Linked DNA regions of Homo sapiens. The protein of the gene in region 1 purifies or fractionates together with the protein of each later gene. This does not show direct contact. Each region holds a gene or a part of one and is shown on either strand. Other genes may lie near its edges.

Region 1 (8,257 bases):
TACGGATTTAAAACGCATGGGAAATATTCTTTATATATTCTTGCCTAGTATCCTGAAGTTTGTCTACCCTTCTCAATTCCAAAAATCCATTCTTGTCAATGGTTAATATACTGTTGAGTTATATTTCAAAACCTGAGACCTCCTTAACAGTTTTCCACTTATACAGGACCATTAATTGGCCATTTTCTGTTGTATGATAAATTTTAAAGTGTTAGTTTCTCATTAGAAATTTGAGCATTCATTAGCCCAATGGAAGTTAATCTGACTCCCTTAACAAGTAGCAAACATTTTTAAAATGTGTGAAGCCAAGGGTCTGTTTTCAGAAGAACAGAAACATTACCCAATCAAAACTGTAAAAATACAAAATAGCATCAAACATATTTTTTAAAATAATTTTTTTCTAAATTCCCTGGGTCACTTTATTTATAATCAAATCTTGACATTCTACCTGCAAAGGCTTTTAAGTGTACTTGCTAAAGAATCATTACAACTTATGAATGAAGCTCCACATTGCAATGATGGAAGTATATTTTCCAAATATTAATAAACATTCCCTACCTAAGAAATTTCAGTAGGAGCTACTGTTGCCTATCAGATTTATGAGCATGAAAATGCCTTAAGCTCTATACCATCTATCTACTTGGTAAAGTGAAATATCCCCCTCTTTAGTTTAACATTCCAGTTGCTGAGTCTTGATAAAATGCCAGATGATACGGACTTTTTCCTGCATAAAAGTATGAAGGTAATCACTAGAGAATGAGAAAATTGAATAGGATTGTTCAAAACTAAGATGCAAAGTGAAGGTGGAGCTTGCAAGATATTTTCTTAGAGCTACCAAAATAACATTGCATATTTCCTTCCATTTTTAGTGGTAACTCAAAAATTAGCTTGAAATTTATCCTATTATAGGTAGTTTTTCATTAGAAAAAACCATTGTGTTAACTTCTGAAGTAATGTTAAATTACTTGAAATTGTCACATACAATACCTGCACTAGTAGATCCAATTCCTGTGGTCAGCACAGATCTTGGTGTAATCTTTGCTGCATATTTGAGGAACTGAGATTTCCCTGTGCCAGGATCCCCAACCAATAAAAGATGAGATTCTCCTAGGAAAAAGCAAATACATGAAGTTTTAAATTTCTATAAAAGGGTCCATTTGGAATGCCAACAAAATATTACATAGTGTTTTTACTGTGTACTTTTACATAGGGTCGTTTGAGAAAGGATTTAACTAGAAAATCTTCAGAAAGTTAACTGTCATAAACAGTCCTTAATTGATTACTCAATGTGACATAGAATCTAAATTCTATTAATAAATTATGTGCTATTTCCAGATGTTCAGGCCTATGTTTAACATTTTAAAAAATATCTGGGGCCAGGTGCGGTGGCTCACACTTGTAATCCCAGCATTTGGGAGGCCAAGGCAGGAGGGTCACTTGAGCCCGGAAATGTGAGACCAGCCTGGGCAAGACTCCATGTCTACAAAAACAAACAAAAAATTTTTGGCTTATAAAGTTTCTGATTTACTCTATTTTTAAATATCAAACTACTATGATTAAATCCTTGCATACAAGTCATATAAGTATTTTATTCTATTTTTATTTAAGCACTTAGAAGTATTAGGGATTTTACAAGTACTTTACAAATATCAAATTATGATTCTAACAGTTAAGTGAAGACCTTTTCATTTATGAAAATTTTAGTAACTTAGTGAAATATGTATCTTAAAATAAGTACTCATTTTGCAAATGTAACATAAATAACGTGCATATCCTATGGTACATATGATTTCACTGACCAAGTTTCTTCAGCAATTCTCAAGTGTTTCCTAAATACATTAATAGGAAACCCCTATTTAAGCTCAACATTTGGCAGAGTGCCTTGCAAAACAGTAGGTGATCAAAACATATAAGGACGCCTTATACTTACTATTCTATACTGTACTATATGGTTTTCGAGTCCCTACTAACAGCCTGATTTATAACAATGCCCTTTTAGTCTTTTGGTTTAATTTTTGGTTATTATGGCCCACGTACAGGGCCGTAATAACCCGTATGCCAGACTCTGGTTAAGTGTGTTAGCTGCAAAAGAGCTTTCTGCCATCTGGACATAATTATACACTTAAGAGTAATCTTTTCTTGAAGGTGTGACCTGCAGCAGCACCCCATGGCAGATGGCACATTTGCTATCTACCAGCAGAAGGAGAATCAGCAGGCAGATGACTGAAAGCAGCAGTCTAAGAGAAACACAGTGACAGCCACAGATGGAGAGACGCTGACTGGAGACATTAAAATACACTATTTCTAATCTTTTTCCTTTTGAAAACAGACCGGGGATCCAACAAAAAACACAGTAATAGAAACAAAGATTTTATTTTGTGGCATCCTTATAGGCTATAGCAAAAGTATATGCCATAGAAAAATGTAACTTCTTTCAGTCTTTCTGGAACTCTAGAAAGTAGCTTCTGATATACAGATGCTAGACTAAGTATAAGATATTCAGACAACTGTCAGTTTTATAAGATTACAATTGGAAAATAAAACCCAACGAGCAGTTTTTATTTGGGAAAGAAAAAGTTCTAGCTTCCATCCATGTGTCAATATTACTCAAAATTTCTAAATAGGTACTAACCTCTGACCCGTGTTCCTGTAGCATCAGTCCTTTGAATCCCACCAGCCAGCACCATGGCCACAGCAAGCTTTACTAGATACATTCCAAACACTTGAGGGCACAAGCTAGCCAATATTACATTCCTTCCTAGGAAAAGCAGAAAGATCAGAAATCAGCAATAATTTTCAAGAAACCCCAACTGAAATTTCCCTTCCTTTCCTATCTGACCATCCTCATTTAAATATACTCTACTATGTGAAGTGATCAGGAGGTCCAATTCCAAATGACCAACAGGATTAAAGGAGGAAATAACTTTGTTTTGGTTCAAAATGTCCTGTTTTTTTGAGACAGGGTCTCACTCTGTCACCTAGGCTGGAGTGCAGTGGCGTGATCATAGCTCATTGCAGCCTCAAACTCCTGGGCTCAAGCAATCCTTCTGCCTCAGCCTCCTGAGTAGTTGGGACAGCAGGTGTGCAGCACCACGCCCAGCTAATGTTTTTTTTCTTTTTTGGAGCAACGTGGTCTCACTATGTTGCCCAGGCTGGTCTCACTCCTGGGCTCAAGCAATCCTTTCATATCAGCCTCCCAAAGTGCTGGGATTACCACCCAGCACTCATGAGTGGTATGAGCCACCGTATGTACTTTCTATGTGACAATTTCAGTAAAATTACTCCACTGCCTAAATAAAAGGAAGGTATTCAATCTCAGAAATAATGAGTCAGATCATACAAGTCAGTAATCTTTAAATACAGAGGTAGCTGGAGCTCATGAAGCTGCTCCAAAGGTATAAGAAATAAGTAAAAAATCCACCCTCCAAGTCAATTCAGCATTTGCTCTGAGCAGTCTGGTAAATTCTGTTTTCTCTGGAACAAAGTTACAGGGGCATCAAGGCATTAAGAAGATCACTGCACACCACAACCCTAGCAGTGTAAGTATGAGATCTCGAATTCTTCTGATCATGTGCTTTAAATAAAAGAACATCACTGTTTGGGGTTCTGTTTTCAGAAATAACGCACCAAATCTGAGAATCTGCCTATCTCTTCCATGAATAAAGCAGGTATTTCATTCAGTCATTGGCCTAACCAACCTATGGAATTCCAACAAGCCATTCCTGAGCCTTTCCACGACTTATGGCCCTATACACAAAGGCTACTTTTTGTAATGAATCAACATTGATTCAGTGGCAACTAATCTATGATGATGTGGCCTGCGATGGCAGAAATGGTGAAGAAAGAAAATCTTTTAGTAAAAAAGGAACCAGAAGATTTAGTAAATCCAGGAAGTTCATTACTTGCTGAAGGAATCCCTCCCTGTTTGGAGTTAGAAAGCCTGGAGAAAAGGTCAGGAATCCAAGCAGATAAGACTTGACAGCAGGTAGGTAAATTGTGACCAGAATCTAGTGATTACATGTGGAAGGAAAGAAGAAACAGCCCCAACAAACAGGTTCAAGAGTAGGCAAATTGATCTGGGAATTACATAAGCCAAAACTTAGAGCCAATTTTACTGAGTAACATGCTGATGGGAAGCATATCCCTGTGGTAAGAGGACAGGCTCTGGTGTCATGTTTGGATTCAAATCCCAGTGCTATTAATTACCAACTGTCTGACCTTAGGCAAGTTTCTTAACCTCTGCCTCCATTTCTTGTCTGCAAAATGGAGATTATAATGGTATCAAGACAGAATTGTTGAGAATCAAGGGAGTTAGTAAGTATACAACACATTAAATAATAACTGGCATATAGTGGGAACTACTTAACTGTAACTGTTAGCTATTTTATTACCTGTATTATTTGTGCATCTTTCTGATCTAAAGATTTCCTCACACTGTGGTCAACACAAAAGACTACAAAGGTAGGACTGGGGTCCCAGAGAGAAGCAAAAAGGAAGGGCCAAATGTGTTGTCTAAGTTGAAAAGCTTGATTCCTTAGATCATGGCAGCAGAAGATCTCATGGCTATATCATGGAAGAAAATGCATTAGCACCAGTACTACCCCCATCCTCACCTCCCTCCCAAATTTCTAGTTCTAGACCATGTCAATAGTGTGGCAAAGGCCTAGTTATCTACTCTTGTGTGGCCCTCAGTTATCTCAATGAAGAGAACTTAGTAGGCCCTTAGTAATCTCAGAATTAAGATAAGTCAGTGACCCCCAAAGAGGGTTCAGATGGCCCAAAACACTCCAACCCTTACATCTGGGTTTCTAACATCTAAGCACCAGGGTCAAGGAATCCCTCAGGTGACAGCAGATCAGAATAAGGCCCCTAGGTTCATCCTAGCCAGTACCCACAGGATCAGGTCTTAAGCAAGTCAACCTCCAAGTGCTGATCAGTGAAGCATTCTCCAGCTTTAGACCAGCAAAATGAAGATGTTCTGTTGGATACAGCTTCCCAACTTCACCTCTCCTCCCTCCAACACACTCACCAACACTCTGAAATGGAGGAATACCAGTACACTGGTGCTGGTCCATAGGAAACTGAGAATCCATTCATACTAACAAGAGAAACACTGCCTTATTTTCTTGCTATCTTCCTACTTATATTTCTCACAAGACTATTATATTTACTTCTGCCTTTTATCCAATAAATGGCTCATGCAACAGTAGCCTAATTAAAACAAGACAGATTCTTTAATTGCCAGCACAAAGCACGTCTGAAGATCTAGTTAGAGTACCATATGATGGCCTTCCCTTCATTGTTAAGAGGTAGAACTGAGCTGTGACACTGTAATAAATAAATAAATAACAGTGGTCCAAGGAAGAGTTACAAATTTTTATAAGGATAGAATCCTAAGAAACCATTTTCAGGCTGTTCAGGCTGGGCACAGTGTAATCTCAGCACTTTGGGAGACGGAAGTGTGAGGATCGCTTGAGCCTAGGAGTTCAAGACCAGCCTGGGAAACATAGCATAGTGAGAACCCTGTCTACTTTAAAAAAAAAAAAAGAAACCATTTTAATTTTAAAAATCATTTAAAAATGTATGATTCTTAAAGTGCCTGCTTCATAAATCTATAATGTAGAGAACTTTTGCTTCTTTCAATACAGATCAGAAAAAAGAAAGATCAGGAACTACTAATGTGCTATACATTTACACACACACACAAAAAAAAAAGAAAAAAGAAAAAATCCCATAAAATAAAACTATCCCTATTTAGGGAAATGGAAGCATTATTATTATTATTATTATTATTATTATTATTATTATTATTATGAGACAGAGTCTCACTCTGTCGCCCAGGCTGGTCTGCAGTGGCGCGATCTTGGCTCATTGCAACCTCTGCCTCCCGGGCTCAAGTGATTCTCCTGTCTCACCCTCACAAGTTGCTGGGACTACAGGTGCACGCCACCACACCTGGCTAATTTTTGTATTTTTAATAGAGACAACGCCACCACACCTGGCTAATTTTTGTATTTTTAATAGAGACAGGGTTTCACCATGTTGGCCAGGCTGGTTTCAAACTCCTGACCTCAAGTGACCCACCCACCTTGGCCTCTCCAAGTGCTGGGATTACAGGCGTGAGCCACCATGCCCAGCTAGAAGCCTTATTTTTTAAAATAATATCTATCTAATTTAGCATGTGATTTAAGAATAAAGTAATCAATATCTCTTAGATTTGAGGGGAGTGTTATTAGAAACGTCTATTACTGGCTTCAGTTTATTTTTCTCAAAAGATGTCTCCATGGAGAAATGAAAACAGGCACTTGAAGATTTAATTGGTGCTTTACACACTTGAGATTTTTTAATAAAATACACTACAAACCCAATGGCTGTGATGTTTTATTCTATGTAATTACACCTGAATGTCACAGTCAAAATTTTTGCTTGTGATGACAAAGCTTATCGTCTGCATCTTCTCTCATCTTTTTCCTAGTTATTCCCTGTTTTAAAATCTTCAGCCAAAATAGTGTAGAGTTAGATCTTTATTATTGAAAATACATCAAAGAAAAACAATGGCTTTAATAGGATGAGGGTTCATAAAAGGATGAGTTTTGCCTTTTTAAAGAACTATATTTTTAATTGATATGATAGGAAACTCTGAAATTGTTTTGGCAGTGTATAAGGTGTTTAAAATAATAGTTAGAAATGAAATATCTCCAGGCAGGTTGCTAAATAGAAGAGTATGGCAGAAAAAGGCTTCAAAGGGAGACTATAGCTAGAGGTAATGACTAATCCTACCCTTTAAACTCAGTCATTGAGTTATGCGGCATATAAGACTGTCAAATCACAGACATCATATTTAACCACTGAATGTAATACCATTAATAATAATCAGTTTTAGCCCTTAAACACAAACCTGCAAAGGGATCGCTCTTATAGTATTCCCAAAAATCTTCGAATTCCTTTTGGACCTCCTCATCCATGATGATCCCTGAGGACTGCTCATTATTTACTTGGATGTAATTTGCTTTCAGGACTATCTCCACTTCACAGCGCACATCTTGCTGAAAGGGCTTCCACCGTTGCATTACAATCCCGTAAATAGTGAGGTCATCACCTAGGAAAAAGCATCAAGTGAGTCCAGCAGTAGCATCCTGCATGCTGAGCACAGACTCAAAATGACAAAGGACCAGAAATTAGAAATAAACCACTCCCTTACTAGAGTTTACAATATGTACACTCATCCAGAAAACAATTCAGGGGCAGAATAGCACCCCAGATTCTTGACTGTTGTCCCCCACAGTCATGTATCTGTAAAGTGAAAAGCTGAAGTCAGTATTTCCTATTTTTCATAACCTGCTACATGATAATCCTACAAAATTATTACTTTTCACTGGGAAAATAGTTTACTGGATGATTCATTCATCACAGTTACATTGGATGAAATGTTCATCCTCTGAGTCTCTAACCATTTAGCTCTCATTTAGAGAAGAGATGTGGGAACTGCAGCCAGAAGGTTAAACTATAATTTGGAGTCAGGAAAAGAGATAACCTTGTGATGACTGGCAGGTAGTTTGGGTTTCTTACATGTTCATTTTTACTTAACTCATTTGCTAATATTTTACTCACTGCCCCCCCACATCTTTTTTAGTGAACCAAAGAAACAATGAACTAAGAAATGAATAAATGCCTGTTATGCTTCAAAGTTCCTTCCCACAAAATATAAAAGCACAAGATACAATCCTGCTTGTTCCTTGCTGATGGTTCTCTCCTACCTGAGGAAACCCTCCCACCATTCCTGGTAGGCAGAAGCAACTTTTATAGATTTTCCTAAGAGGCCCTGGGTAGTTTATAGGCACACTCGCCAAACACTGCCATCTGTACTTGTTACGACATACAATGCAATGCATCAGTTAACAAGTATATACAAATGTTTGGCCTTCCATATTTTGGTACTGGAGAAAGTGGGCCAAAAACAAACATGAAAAAAATCATAATCCTGGTCCCCCCAAATTTTAATCTTGTTGAACACAGGGTGTTGGATGTGCCCCAACCCCAATTCTGGTATTTATATTTTGCATAATAAACACTGTCTCAGAACTAACAGGCAATTCTTCATTTCCAAGCCTTTGTGCCAATTATATGATATGTGCTGATGAAAAATGCCTTTCACTCTCTAAATTTCAATGAGTAATCTGCATAGCTTTTGATTTCCTAAAGGAAAATGCTAAATTCATGGAACTGGTGGTGCCAATCCACAGAATAGAAGGCACAT
Region 2 (7,628 bases), on another chromosome or scaffold:
TCATCCGGCAGCTTGATGGCAAGTCGCTTGTAGGTGTTCAGGTTGCCCGCAAAGCTCCTAAAGGAAAAGGGTGTCGTTGGACCGGAGTCGAGAATACCGGACACAACTCAGGGCTCATGTGGAGAAAAGGTGGCTTATCTGCCAGCACTCAATGTGTCTGCCCGACTATCTGGGCAGAAGGAGGAGGCCCCAGGGTTCCATGTGCATGGCAGAGCCCTTAGCCGCGACCCGCGGTGCTGTCCGTGTCTGGTGGAAATGGACTAAGAGAAAAGGGCACGCTTCTACACTTCATAACTTTCTCTTGCAAGACATGCGTGCGGTGGCTCAAGCCTGTAATCCCAGCACTTTGGGAGGCTGAGGCGGGTGAATCATTTGAGGTCAGGAATTTGAGACCAGCCTGGCCAACATGTTGAAACCCCGTCTGTACTAAAAATACAAAAATTAGCTGGATGTGGTGACATGCACTGGTACGAGCTGGTAGTCGCAGCTACTTGGGAGGCTGAGACATGAGAATTGCTTGAACATGGGAGGCAGAGATTGCAGGGAGCTGAGATGGCACCACTGCACTTTAGCCTAGGCAACAGAAGGAGACTCCTTTTTTTGTTTTGGTTTGTTGTTAAAGGGCCACAAGTCACCTTGTGCCTTAATCTCATTAGCTCCTAAACAACCATCACCTTACCAAAAAGGACCAATGGCAAATTTAGAAAATGATTTCTCTCTAACCAGTCACCAGGGCCTGCTACTGCAAGAGCGGTGCTGTGAGTACTGCCTGACTTTCTGATTTTTCACAGTGACATGGAATAAGCACAACCCCTAAGCACGTTTGCAGTGGCTGGGCCTGAGGGGTGTGTGTTCCTGACAGGGCAGAGCTTTCTCCAAAGCACCTCACCTCCCTCGGAGTCGAACCGCATCTTGAAATCTCCTCTCGTCCATCGCCTTCTGCACATCCTGAGTCTTTTAAAACAATGATGAAAAGAAGAAAGAATGTGTCAGGACCTGGTGCATCATGGATGGGGTAGGTAGAGACTGGCTCGGTCCTTCCCACCAGCCCCCTCCAGTCTGACCCGGGCAGCCAGCAGCCCCAGGGTTAATGGTCTAGACGACCGGCCGCCAAGTGTGTCCTAATGCTGGTTGGCAGCCAGCCCCACACGGCCCGGCTGTGAGGTCAGAGCCCTGGGACTGCTTAGCTCAGGAGGCTTCTGAGGAAAAAGAGAAGGTGTCACCTGCTGTTTGTGGACACAACACTGTGAAGATTTAACTCCAAGAGAACAAAGCCAGAGGAAATGAAATCTCTCAGGCATGGTTCTAAGGAATTCTCAATTTGATTATGGTGGGGAAAAACAAAACAGAACACACCAGCTCACTGGGGGATGTGGGATGGGAGCGAGGTCACAGCGGGCGGGGGAGCAGAGGGGCCCGGATGGAGGCCCTGGGACACGGGGCTGGGACTGATGCACGCCAGGCAGCCCTGGGCAACGTCAGGATCTTGGTCAAGTTCTTTCTCGCTCTGAACTTCAATTTCCTCATCTGTAAGATGAGAAAAATACTCCTACTTCCAGCTATCTCTAAGGTTATTCAAGCATGTCAGACCCTCAGGAAGACGCCTGACAAACAGCAGGTGCACAGTAGTGGTCCCTCAGCTTTAAAAACAAAGCCACACAAGGGTGGTTTCAAGGTCAGGGCAAGTGACACCTACCACGGTCGTCTCTAGACAAGCAGAGACATGAGACACAGGCTCAAAATACACGTACCGCATGTCGTTCAGTGCTCTGAGCCTTTTAAGCCTACTGCCTCTCACATGCACACAGGCACACACTAACGTGCAGACACACACTACCTCACACTCCAACATACACACATATGCACATAAGCATACCTGCACACACAAACATGCAGACACACGCTACCTCACACTCATGCCAACATGCACACATCTGCATAGAAACATACCTGCACACACACACAAACATGCAGGCACATACTACCTCTCACAAACATACACACACATCCATATAAACACATGCACACACAGACATGCACACACTATCTCAAACATGCTCACACATGCATATAAGCATACATGCACACACATGCAGATGCATTACCTCACACACATATATACACATGCATATAAACATACATGCACACACTAACATGCAGAAACATACTACCTCACACTCAAATGTACACATGCATATACACACATGCACACACACTAACATGCACACACACTACCTCACAAAAACATGCACACACGTACAAACATGCATGCACACAAACATGCACACACATACATGCAGACATACTACCACAAACATGCATACTCATGCATATAAACATACACATACATGCAGACCCAAACTACCTCACAAACATGCACACACATGCATAAATATATGCATAAACCTGCATGTATATGCATATACAGAGATACACATGCACACACATATACATACATACACACAGAGACACAAGCCTGCGCACACACTCACACACATACACACAAATACTATTTTCTCCCTTGGGCTTTTGGAAATTATGTTTACAAGGTGACTTTCAACAAGTCCCTGACTTGATTGCTTCACGACTTCTTTGTGTGTGTTAAGAGGCAACAAAACAGGAGTCACGAATCATGAATGAACTCTGAAAAATAAAACAACAGCTGGGCGTGGTGGCTCATGCCTGTAATCCCAGCACTTTGGGAGGCCGAGGTGGATGGATCACAAGGTCAGGAGATCCAGACCATCCTGGCTAACACGGTGAAACCCCACCTCTACTAAAAATACAAAAAAAAAAAAAAAAAAAAAAAATTAGCCAGGCGTGGTGGTGGGCACCTGTAGTCCCAGCTACTCGGAAGGCTGAGGCAGGAGAATGGCGTGAACCCAGGAGGCGGAGCTTGCAGTGAGCCAAGATCACGCCACTGCACTCTAGCCTGGGCAACAGTGAGACTCCGTCTCTAAATAAATAAATTAATTAATTAAATAACTTCAAATGCAGCTAACTCCACAGCCACCTCCACTACTGAACCAATGCCTGAAAAGCTGGAACTGCTTTTCCCTTTGTTCATTTGCAGGCAGACAGTTCCCTGGCCCAAGAAGGGTGGGTGTATCTTCGGGTGACCAGAGCTTTCCCTGTGTCCCATCACAGACCTGAATGTCCTTGGGGATAGGAGGACAGGAAATGGCTGAAACTGGAGAAGTTTGGGAAGGTCCCACCTTCCCCTACAAAATACCACCCTGTAGATCTCTCTCACGCCCGCCTCCCTGCCTCCCTGCCCCCTCTGCCCCATGGGTCTCTCTCACGCCCGCCTCCCTGCAGTCTGTCCACGGATCTCTCTCTCTCGGCTGCCTCCCTGCACTCTGTCCTTCTGCAGCACCTGGTGCACTGGGGCCACCTGGATCCTCGACTGTTGAGGATCCCGATGCTCTAGACCCCCACTCAGGGGAGGTTACGACTATGTGCCACACAGATGGATGGTAACTTAGAAAACCAAAGAGCGAAGACGGCGCAGGCTCTGCAGGTGTGGGAGAGAACATAAGCCTTCTCCCTCCCCACGGGCAGCTCACCTCCTTCTCAGAAAGGCCGTGTAATGCATCGTGCACCGACGAGACACCCAAGGTGCCCAGGCTGGCCTGACAAGCAGCTTCTGTCCCAGCCGTCTCCGCCCTGCCCTTGGCCATGGGCTGCCCACTCACCATCTGCACGCACTCCATCAGCGGCAGGCGCACGGCGTGGTTCCCGTTCAGTGACACGACGCAAGCTGGGGTGTCCGGGGTGGCCTCTAGCAAGGCGATGACTGCCTCCACTCCCATGCGGCTGGCCTGGAAACCAGGTCCATGTGGGTCAGGGGCAGCCTCCCGTCCTGCCCTGTCCCTGTCACCTCCTATCTTTCCATGACGTCCAATGACCTCAGTCAGGTGCTCACAGCCCCTCCCGCTTCCAGCCCAACTCTTTAGAGCAAAGCGATTTCCACTCCTTTAGAACTGGCAAGACGGGAACAGAGAGGAGGTCAGGGCACATGGAGAGCAGGAGTGTTAAGAACTGAGGGTTTGTACTTGGGATTCCTGCTGCCCTGAGTCAGTTTCCAGAAACTCACTAGAAACACAGCCTTTCTGCCCTGGGATTGTGCCCTCTGGGGTCCACGTCGTGCCAACACCAAGCACTGCCTTCCCACATTAGGGAGCTCTCCCCGCATCTGAATGGCTGCAGGCCTAGAGACTGGTCTACACCAAAGGTCTCAAGGATCGTTAAGATGAGGGCCGGGCCGCGGGCATCTCTCGGGGAGCACCTTGCCAGCCTCTGTGGCCGGCTGGTGCCTGTGCCTCTCCAGAAACGCTTCCTCCTAGAGACCTTGTGAAGATGCCCAACCCTTCCCAACTCACCAAGATCCTGTCGAATGCCGAAGGGGTCCCTCCTCTCTGCACGTGCCCGAGGATGGTCACACGTGTGTCATAGCCCAGCTGCGTGACGACAAGCTGCAAGGAAACATCTCGTTAGGATGCGGAACTGTGATGCGGACACAGCAGCCCAGATCTGGAAGGAGGTACTGGGCACTGGAAAAGGTTTTTCGCTCTTTCTTCAGATCTAAATGGGAAAAGTTATTTCTAAATTTTGTTTCCTAGCAGAACGTTTAGTGTATATAACAGGCAGCTGAAAATTGGTTTTAAAAATAATACTGTTGTTACCAGACAAGATCTTGGCTCGCACCTAGAAAATGAATACAAGTAATATGTTCGTTGCTTTAAAAAAGAAAAATAAAAAAGTAACGTTTCAGTAGCTTGCATTTAAACTATTACTTATATTTTACAAAAAATGTAAACATCTTCCTTGAACCAGCTTTAATTTGTTCAGCTGTGATTTGAACAGCACAAGCCAGCCCAATCAAGGCGTTCCCCTCGCCCCAGCCCATGGGCACACCGGCCCGGTGATCTGGAGAGGCCACTGACTGTCTCTGGAACTCAGCTTATTCCTCTGTAAGGACAGTGGGGCTGGGCTACGTAAATTCCTTGGTTCCTTCTCGGTCCATTGTCCTATAATTTAATTACAGTTAAGCGGGAAATAAAATCTTTGCCTGGACTTTATGGATGACCACTTATAAATATTGGCAGATGTCTTTCCCAGGTGTCCATCACTGTTTTCATATCCAGAGATATGCTTTGCTCCTTAACTGACCATAACAAAGCACAATAAAGAAGCCGACTTGCAAAGCCAGGTGGGGACGTCTTCTGCCCCGTGGCTGCTGGAGCCACAGCCCATCCCCAGCCCCGGCAGCCTGCAGCCCCGTCTACAGCAGGGGCACAGCCCATGGTATCAGAGTCCTCTCCAGACAGGCAGGCACTGGCCTGAGCAAGTCCCAGGGCACGAAGCCTGCCAAAGCCTGCCAAAGCCTGTTCCCAGGCAGGGCCACGAGGACACAGTGGCTTTGTAAGAATGTGCTCAGCTGATGCTCTGGGTTATGGGAGGGCACAGGGAATAGCAAGACGCCGCCTTTTCCCACTGTGGCAAACAGAAGCCCGGGTCGGCTGCCAAGTGGTCAGTCCTCATTCTCAGAGCAGCTCATGTTTAAGAGCCGGAACATTCTAATCCAAAGAACACGCGTGGCCACTCGAGCTGACCCCCTCTGTCTGCTGGGGAGTCCCGGAACCTCTACGGGCTCGGCAAGAGGTGACGTAAGCGGAATGGGCTCCCAGGAGCGGGAGCTGCGTGTTTCCCCTGCCGTCCAACTTCTGAGTCATTATGAAAATGTTTTAAATATCAAGGATAAAAAGTTAATAATTCAATGTTCTAAACCAAGCCTGCCCATGACGCTAGCCTCCCCTGCTTCCAGGCAGAAACCGAGAGAAAGTGAGCAGCTACACACACTCACCTCTTTGATTTTCTCAGAGGTGATGGGTTTATTTTGGGTATCAATTGCTCCTTCAGCCACAATAATAATATTCAGCCTTTTTTTCCGGGCACGGTTCTGTGGAGACAGAAAATTAAAGCTCTCAAATTCCTAATCCTGTTCTTAGCAACAAATGCAACAAAACCACAGAAGTCTGTCTCAAACTGAACTGGCCTCTTTCTGGGCAGGAATCTTTGCCTAACTTCCTAAGAGCTGCTTCCCAATGACATCAGAAGGTGGTGAAAGGTGTGCTGGGTGACAGCAGGGAGGGACAGGGGTGAGAGGAGGGGCAGGGGCGAGGAGAGGGGCAGGGGTGAAGGGGCAGGGGCAGGGTGAGGAGAGGGGCAGGGGTGAAGGGGCAGTGCAGGGGAGAGGAGAGGGGCAGGGGCGAAGGGGCAGGGGCGAGGAGGGGGCAGGGGTGAAGGGGCAGGGCAGGGGCGAGGAGAGGGGCAGGGGTGAAGGGGCAGGGGCGAGGAGAGGGGCAGGGGTGAAGGGGCAGGGGCGAGGAGAGGGGCAGGGGTGAAGGGGCAGGGGCGAGGAGAGGGGCAGGGGTGAAGGGGCAGGGGCAGGGGTGAGGAGAGGGGCAGGGGTGAGGACAGGGGTAGGGGTGAGGACAGGGGCAGGGGTGAGGAGAGGGGCAGGGGTGAGGAGAGGGGCAGGGGTGAAGGGGCAGTGGCAGGGGTGAGGAGAGGGGCAGGGGTGAAGGAGCAGGGCGGCTGTGGCTCACTGGAAGAGAGCTCTTTGGGACTGGGAGCTCACATCACCACCGCAGATAGAAATGTGGCCCCCAGTCAGCCCCAGGTGGAGGGTGCTGGTGTGATTGACAGGGGTTCCCATGGGGAAGGACACACAGGTGGACGCCCCACAGGCGCCCCGTGCACGCCATGCTTTCTGCCTCCCATGGGGAAGGACACACAGGTGGACGCCCCACAGGCGCCCCGTGCACGCCATGCTTTCTGCCTCCCATGGGGAAGGACACACAGGTGGACGCCCCACAGGCGCCCCGTGCACGCCATGCTTTCTGCCTCCCATGGGGAAGGACACACAGGTGGACGCCCCACAGGCGCCCCGTGCACGCCATGCTTTCTGCCTCCCTCCAGAGTTTCCTGCCATCTCCCTGTGAACCACTCCTCCCCGGCCCTCCCAGGGGAGGCCCCGAAGCCTGGCCACTGGGATGAGGTTGTATTGCACACAGGCTCCAGCAGCAGAGAGTCGGGAGAGAGAAAACGGCGTGAGCGGACACAGGGCCCAGACAGTGGGTTTCTGGCAGCTGCAGCTGCACCCGAAAGGCCTCACACTGCTGGGCCACCGTGGCTGCTGTCCCCGTCGTCCTTCCTATGCTCACGGCAGTCACGTGAGCCTAAAGAGGTCATGAAAGGAACATAGCGACCACTCCATGATGTGGATTAACTCATCCTCAATGGACTCGCTTTCTATTAAGCCCCAAATTAAAGACCCACCCATAGAAAATGATAGGGGTGGCTGTGTGGAGCCTGGAGCCAACAGTGCCTGAAGTCTGCCTGCCGGAGTTAGGCACGCATGGGGCATTCTAACCAGGCTCACTCTGTCTCAGCCTCAGGTCTTAAATGAAACCTCTTCTGCCTTGAGTCTCAGCCTTCATAGAGGAAAACATGCCCCACGCTCACAGTCCATAGAGTGAAATACAAAGTGTGACAAACTGGAGACAGAGAAATTTTTTCACTTGCTTAAAATGCCGTCCCACTTGGGATCCTGATTAAAGCAA
Region 3 (5,688 bases), about 120 Mb from region 1:
CCTGGCAAGTCGAGTGGGGAATGCCAAGGCATCAACGTGGCAGACGTCTCAGAGGCTTGGGAGGTGGCAGCAGGTAAGGAAGAGGAAGATGGGTCTCCAGACACCCTCTCCTACTCCAGGCCAGGGGAAGATCTCTGAACCAGAGGGGCCCAGATAGAGCCAGGGGCTTGGGTACCATTTCAGTCAGAAGATCAAAGTGGTAGGCACATACTGAGTGATGTATGACGACTTTCCTCTTTCCCCACCTGGCGCTGAGAACGCAGGGAGCCATGCCTTGACCTACTTGACTGAAAAGATGAGCCTGACCCTACCTACCGTCTAGTCCCAACACTGCGGCAAGGGATCCCTATAACATCAAAGTCTCATCATGACACTCTTTGAGGGAAACCTTGAGTAAAAGCCAAAGTCCTTCCCATGACCTAAAAGGTCCCACCTTATCTGAAGCTCCATGATCCTCGGCCTCGACTTCTACCACTCTTTCCTCCCCTCCGGCTAGACTGGTCTCCTTACTGGATGCTGAACCCACCCAGCCTTCCATCCTCCCTCGGCGCCTTTGCACTTGCTTTTCCCTCTGCCTGGGATGATCCTTTCCCGGGTGTCTGAAAGGCACATTCACTTCCTTGAAGTCTTGACTCAAACACTTTCTTGGTGAGATCCACCTTGGCTACTCTACTAAAACTGCACCCATACCTCCCCTTTCCATATTCAATCTTTCATTCATTTTCTCCTTAGCATAGCACTTATCACTATTTGGCATATTAACATATTATTTTTCATACCATAGGCTTTAAGAACACAGAATTTTTGGTCTCTTCTGCTCACTGATGTGTTTTAACATCAACAAGAATGCTCAGCATAAAACAGGCACTCAATATTTATTGAGGCCGGGCGCGGTGGCTCACGCCTGTCATCCCAGCACTTTGGGAGGCTGAGGTGGGTGGATCACCCGAGGTCAGGAGTTCGAGACCAGCCTGACCAACATGGTGAAACCCCCGTCTCTACTAAAAATACAAAAATTAGCCTTGTGTGGTGGTGTGCGCCTGTAATCCCAACTACTTGGGAGGCTGAGGCAGGAGAATCGCTTGAACCTGGGAGGTGGAGGTTGCAGTGAGCCGAGATCGCATCATTGCCCTCCAGCCTGGGAAAAAGAGCAAGAGTTGGTCTCATAAATAAATAAATTTATTGAATAAAAAAAGAAACTTCCCTAGAACTGAAAGGAGTTTCCAGATTGAAAGGCCCAACAAGTACCCAGTGCAGACTTTTAAAACACGGGGAGCAAAGACAGAAGAGTCTACAAGTTGATAGAGGTTACAAACAAAAGACCACACACATCAGGATGCCTTCAAACTTGACAACAATGTGGGAAAGTGTAAAACAATGCACAAGTAATTTCTTACCTACAATTTATTACTAGCCAAACCCTCAGACACGTCTGAAGGTACAATAAAAGCATTTTGAGTCTCCTGAGGTCTAAAAATACTTTTCCTCCACACACCCCTGCTCCATAAAGCTACTAGAGGGTACATGCCACCTGTGCCAGAAAGCAGTCAGTCCTGTCATCAGATGGGGTGCAGGGAGAAGCAGAGGAAAGCTCCAGGGTGATGATGAAGGGAGATTCTGGGGATGGCAACTGCACACTGCAGTGCAACCACTCCAGACAGAAGGAGGGAGGCCAGTCGGGCCAAGCCTCTGCAACATACAGTCCCTCCAGCCTGATAAAACTACTAGAGGATGGGTTGCACTGAAATAGCGGAATAAACCAGTAAGGCGGGATGGAGCATCCAGAAAATGGGCATCTCACTCAGAATAAAGGCAGAGGACGTCCCAGGCCAACAGCCGGCAGCCTTCCAGACATGGCAGGAGGACCCCAGGAGGGATCACGCAACAGCAGGAGGAGAACCGACTACCTGAAGGGGCCATCCTTGTGGGCATATGCACGACATGCAACTAAGGAGAGGGAGAGGAAGTAGCAGTAGGGACAAATAACTCTTAACTGAGCAGAAGGAGTGGCGTATTTTGTGTTCAGGACACACATAAAGTAAAAGAAAAACGACTGTTTAGAAATATGGAGCTGCAAGAAGAAACCAGGACAAGTGGGAAAAAATGGGCATGGGACTACTGGAGTCTTCCACAAGCCATTTAAAGAATTCCTTTATGTATTCCTTTAAAGAGATCAGAGTTAACTTTCAACAAGATAACACTGACTTCTTAACTTAAGCTCCCCACTCTTCCCATCTGGGGTGATTTCTCCTTCCCAGTATCCACCCACCAAATGCAATGGTGACAACGCTGGTACCTAGCATCCAGGCAGGAAAACCATGACAGAATCGAAGAGTACTTTGAAATAGTTTTATTGGCTCGTAAGACCTTTGCATATAAAAAAAATACCCAAAACACTATGCAGTATTAAATCACAATTACATTTTTTTACCAATTAAAACTACCCAGAATATACATTTTTTAAAGAAAAGAAAATCCTACAGAACTGAATTCTGAAATGACATTATGACTTAAATACTATGACAAAATAGATAATTCCTTATAACATTAATTCATTGCACAAAGCTGCCAGGTATTTTCATAAGCATAACCGCTGCACCGAGTGCAAATGAACACAATTTCAAAGTTACACATTTATTCGAAAGAACTGCGCCTCCACCTATGGAACTCTTAAATTTCTGGCACAAAATGTTGGTCTGTTCTAACTTCCACCAGGCAACCAACTTTGCAATCCACTAACTTTCTTTCTGGCCCTCCCTTAAAAAAGCAACATCCTTCTGCTGTCGTGCCCTGAGGAGTCAGCACCTCCTCTGCTTGAAGAAATCTACCCCCCTCAACTCTTCAGGCAGGTACTCCTGATCCACAGGCTCGCTGTACATGGGGTTGTACTTGTAGCCTTTGCCATAGCCCAAATCCTTCATCAGCCTAGTGGGCGCGTTCCTCAGGTGCAGGGGCACGGGGGGCAGTGGCCCCTGGTGGTTCCTCAGGCAGGCTTTGACGTTGTTGTAGGCGCTGTACACCTCAATGGACTTTGGGGCTCTGGCAAAGTAGACCACACACTGGGCCAGAAGCACCTACCAATGACACAGAGGACACATTTTACTAGCAAGATGCCAAGCTTCTGTTCTGCAGAGCCCCTTCTGATACACAGCTCTAGGTAATTCTGAGAAGATCCCCACATGCTTTTATTATCCCCCTTTTGCGCCTACAGTCTGGATAACCACCTACGACAGACAGAAGAAATTCTCATGAGGTGAAACGAGAGGCAAACCAGGTGAGTGGTTTTCATTTTTTTTTTTAACTGAAGGACTTTTTACTACATTAAATTTTTCTTAAGCCCCCAATATATAAAAGAGATGAATATGAAGCTGCTCTGGGGGCGAACTTGCAGAGGCTTTGCTGTTCAGCTCCTTTAACCTTTCTGCTCCCTGGAACATATGGAGCATGTGCTCTGAACCCCGGAATCCCGAGAACAGTTTGAAACATGACCTCGTTGACACAGAAGGTTTCCCTCTCTAGGAGTCTAAGAGTCTACAATTGGAATTCCAAAGCCAAGCAGCATACTCAGTGGGTCCAATACACCAATGGTGAAGGAGGGACATTTATTCAAATCTACAAAGGGACAGAGCACGAGAGAGAAAAGAAGTGATTTGCAAGAAATGAGCTGATTACTTTACCTCACATTCAGGCATGCCTATAAAATGACAGCCTTGGTAGGCAGCAACCGCTTGTGTTAACGCAGACGGGTCTGCCAGACCTGCCACACACAGAGACAAAGGAGAGTTTCAGTCATGACACACACTGTCCTCCTGGCCTATGTGCAGGCGACCACAGACCACCACTGCTTGTACACTTGGTGACCAAAACAATCCCATGTAGCAAAACAGCCTGACTTAGCTCTAGTCTCTGATCCCATGAACTTATGCAAGAAATATTGAGAGTGGTTACTGTGTGGTGTTAAGAACTGTTTCCTTGTGGATAAAAACTCTGCATCTAGAAAAACATGAGTCTCTGTATAACAAACATAAGAAGTGAAGGCTATGGAGACATTCACCAGGATGGAAACACTAAAAACAAAACATCCCCTAAGACCAAAGAAGAGGAGAGCTTTCCTGATCTTTTTCTTCATATAGTGTCTAGAGTCTTCCATTTCTACCTTGGGAGCTGTCCAAAGAAAACCTTGAACACCTGACTTAAAGCAAATTTAAAAGCAGCTCATCTATTGCAATACTCTGAATAGCCACTCATGTTAGTAAAAACATTCCCGAAGAGGAAACAGAAAATGGTGACTTTATGAACATAAACATTCAAAAGCACATACACCAGGAAATAAACGACTGAGCTCAGGCATAAAGTCTTATCTTCTCCTGCCAGTCTCACATAGCCCTGAGACATTCTTCCTGCTACCCCCGCCCACCCCGCCCTGCAAAAAAAAAAAAAAAAAAAGCCACGATGTAACTGTTAGCCATTTCCCCACCCTCATGGACATAGGACTCCGGGACCCTCCCATCACACTCACCTATGTCCTCGCTGGCAAACCTGACAAGCCTCCGTGCCACGTAGAGTGGGTCCTCTCCTCCCTCGAGCATGCGAGCCAGCCAGTAGAGGGAGGCGTTCTGGTCTGAGCCCCGCATGGACTTGTGCAGGGCGGAGATGCAGTTGTAATGCTCCTCACCTGACATCACAAAGAGCACCACTCACACAGAGCTCACAGGAGGGGCGCCCAAGCCATCTTCACCTCCGCCAGCTGACTTCCAGAAAGCCTGAACGAATAAAGGCCCTGAGAAAGCCGAGGAGAGGTTTGGGCAGCTGCCTTAACCGTGCTCTGAGTGGGGTGCACCAGCTGCTGGGGCTTAATCCCAGTCCTATTCAGGGGAAGAGGCTGCTGCAGCAGAAACCTGTGGCTGTCGACATGGAGTGCACGCACACGCACAGAGGCAGGAGGGAGGAAAGGTGGTCCTCCCAGCTGGTGGATTTGCCAGAGACAAGAGTGGAGGGGGACGAGTCTTCTGTTCTGGCTCTATCCCGTGGCCCACCATCTACTGGAGGAAAAGCAACGGTGGGCCTGCTCGGAGCCAGGAGGATGTAGAGCCAAGTGGCAAGGGCAGCTGTTATAGCCCATCTGTTCCTCAGTGTCATTTCCAGCTGCCTTTCTGATATCCGAAGCCTGTGGTCATTTAAACCTCCTTCTGCCAGCCTTGGTGTGGGGACACCTGTGTGGCAGGGTCCCAGAAGGACCGACACGTGGACTAACCAGCTTCCGCCCTGAAGTGGACGGAAGCCCACTCTCTCACCGCCTGGTCTTACTACTCCATTTTTACCCTAGATTCACATGAAATCAGTGAAATGTGCTTTAAAAAAAGGCATATTTAAGGGCAAAAAAATGACAGCTAAACAGTTCTCAGGAACTAAGCAGTGGCACCTGCATACATTTCACTATTCTCTGGCCATCGTCCCTTAGGTAAGTTCAAGGAGGGGGCACCCTCCTCACGAGAAAGCGGAGGATGGTGTTCCCGTGAGTCTCACTCCTCCCAGAGGAGCACCTGGTCTGTGCTCAGCATAAGCCCATGTCCACAATACGACTGGCGCCAGCCACAAACCCTGGCAGCTGAGCTCGCTGGTAAGATGACAGTTGGTCTTCAGGTGGAGAAGAGAGCAAGCGAAGATGCTGGCCTCCCACAGGGGAAA

Evidence for each region. Proteins that work in one complex are often made in the same cells at the same time.
Region 2: the proteins of MCM9 (region 1) and PFKP purify together in Homo sapiens (affinity purification with mass spectrometry; 2 studies listed by BioGRID and IntAct, with this or other methods). This does not show direct contact.
Region 3: the proteins of MCM9 (region 1) and WRNIP1 purify together in Homo sapiens (affinity purification with mass spectrometry; 2 studies listed by BioGRID and IntAct, with this or other methods). This does not show direct contact.

The regions. Positions count from the first base shown.
Region 1 is NC_000006.12:118,910,663-118,918,919, forward strand, and holds part of MCM9 (DNA helicase MCM9), read right to left. Parts: intron 7,294-8,257; exon of another isoform or gene 7,202-7,293; intron 7,100-7,201; coding exon 6,899-7,099; coding exon of another isoform or gene 6,864-6,898; exon of another isoform or gene 6,507-6,863; intron 2,759-6,506; coding exon 2,633-2,758; intron 1,108-2,632; coding exon 988-1,107; coding exon of another isoform or gene 962-987; exon of another isoform or gene 1-961. UniProt on the Homo sapiens protein: Component of the MCM8-MCM9 complex, a complex involved in the repair of double-stranded DNA breaks (DBSs) and DNA interstrand cross-links (ICLs) by homologous recombination (HR).
Region 2 is NC_000010.11:3,105,548-3,113,175, reverse strand, and holds part of PFKP (ATP-dependent 6-phosphofructokinase, platelet type), read right to left. Parts: intron 5,963-7,628; coding exon 5,867-5,962; intron 4,476-5,866; coding exon 4,383-4,475; intron 3,822-4,382; coding exon 3,696-3,821; intron 955-3,695; coding exon 890-954; intron 58-889; coding exon 1-57. UniProt on the Homo sapiens protein: Catalyzes the phosphorylation of D-fructose 6-phosphate to fructose 1,6-bisphosphate by ATP, the first committing step of glycolysis.
Region 3 is NC_000006.12:2,782,393-2,788,080, reverse strand, and holds the end of WRNIP1 (ATPase WRNIP1), read right to left. Parts: intron 4,676-5,688; coding exon 4,520-4,675; intron 3,758-4,519; coding exon 3,678-3,757; intron 3,075-3,677; coding exon 2,799-3,074; 3' UTR 1,129-2,798; downstream 1-1,128. UniProt on the Homo sapiens protein: Functions as a modulator of initiation or reinitiation events during DNA polymerase delta-mediated DNA synthesis. In the presence of ATP, stimulation of DNA polymerase delta-mediated DNA synthesis is decreased.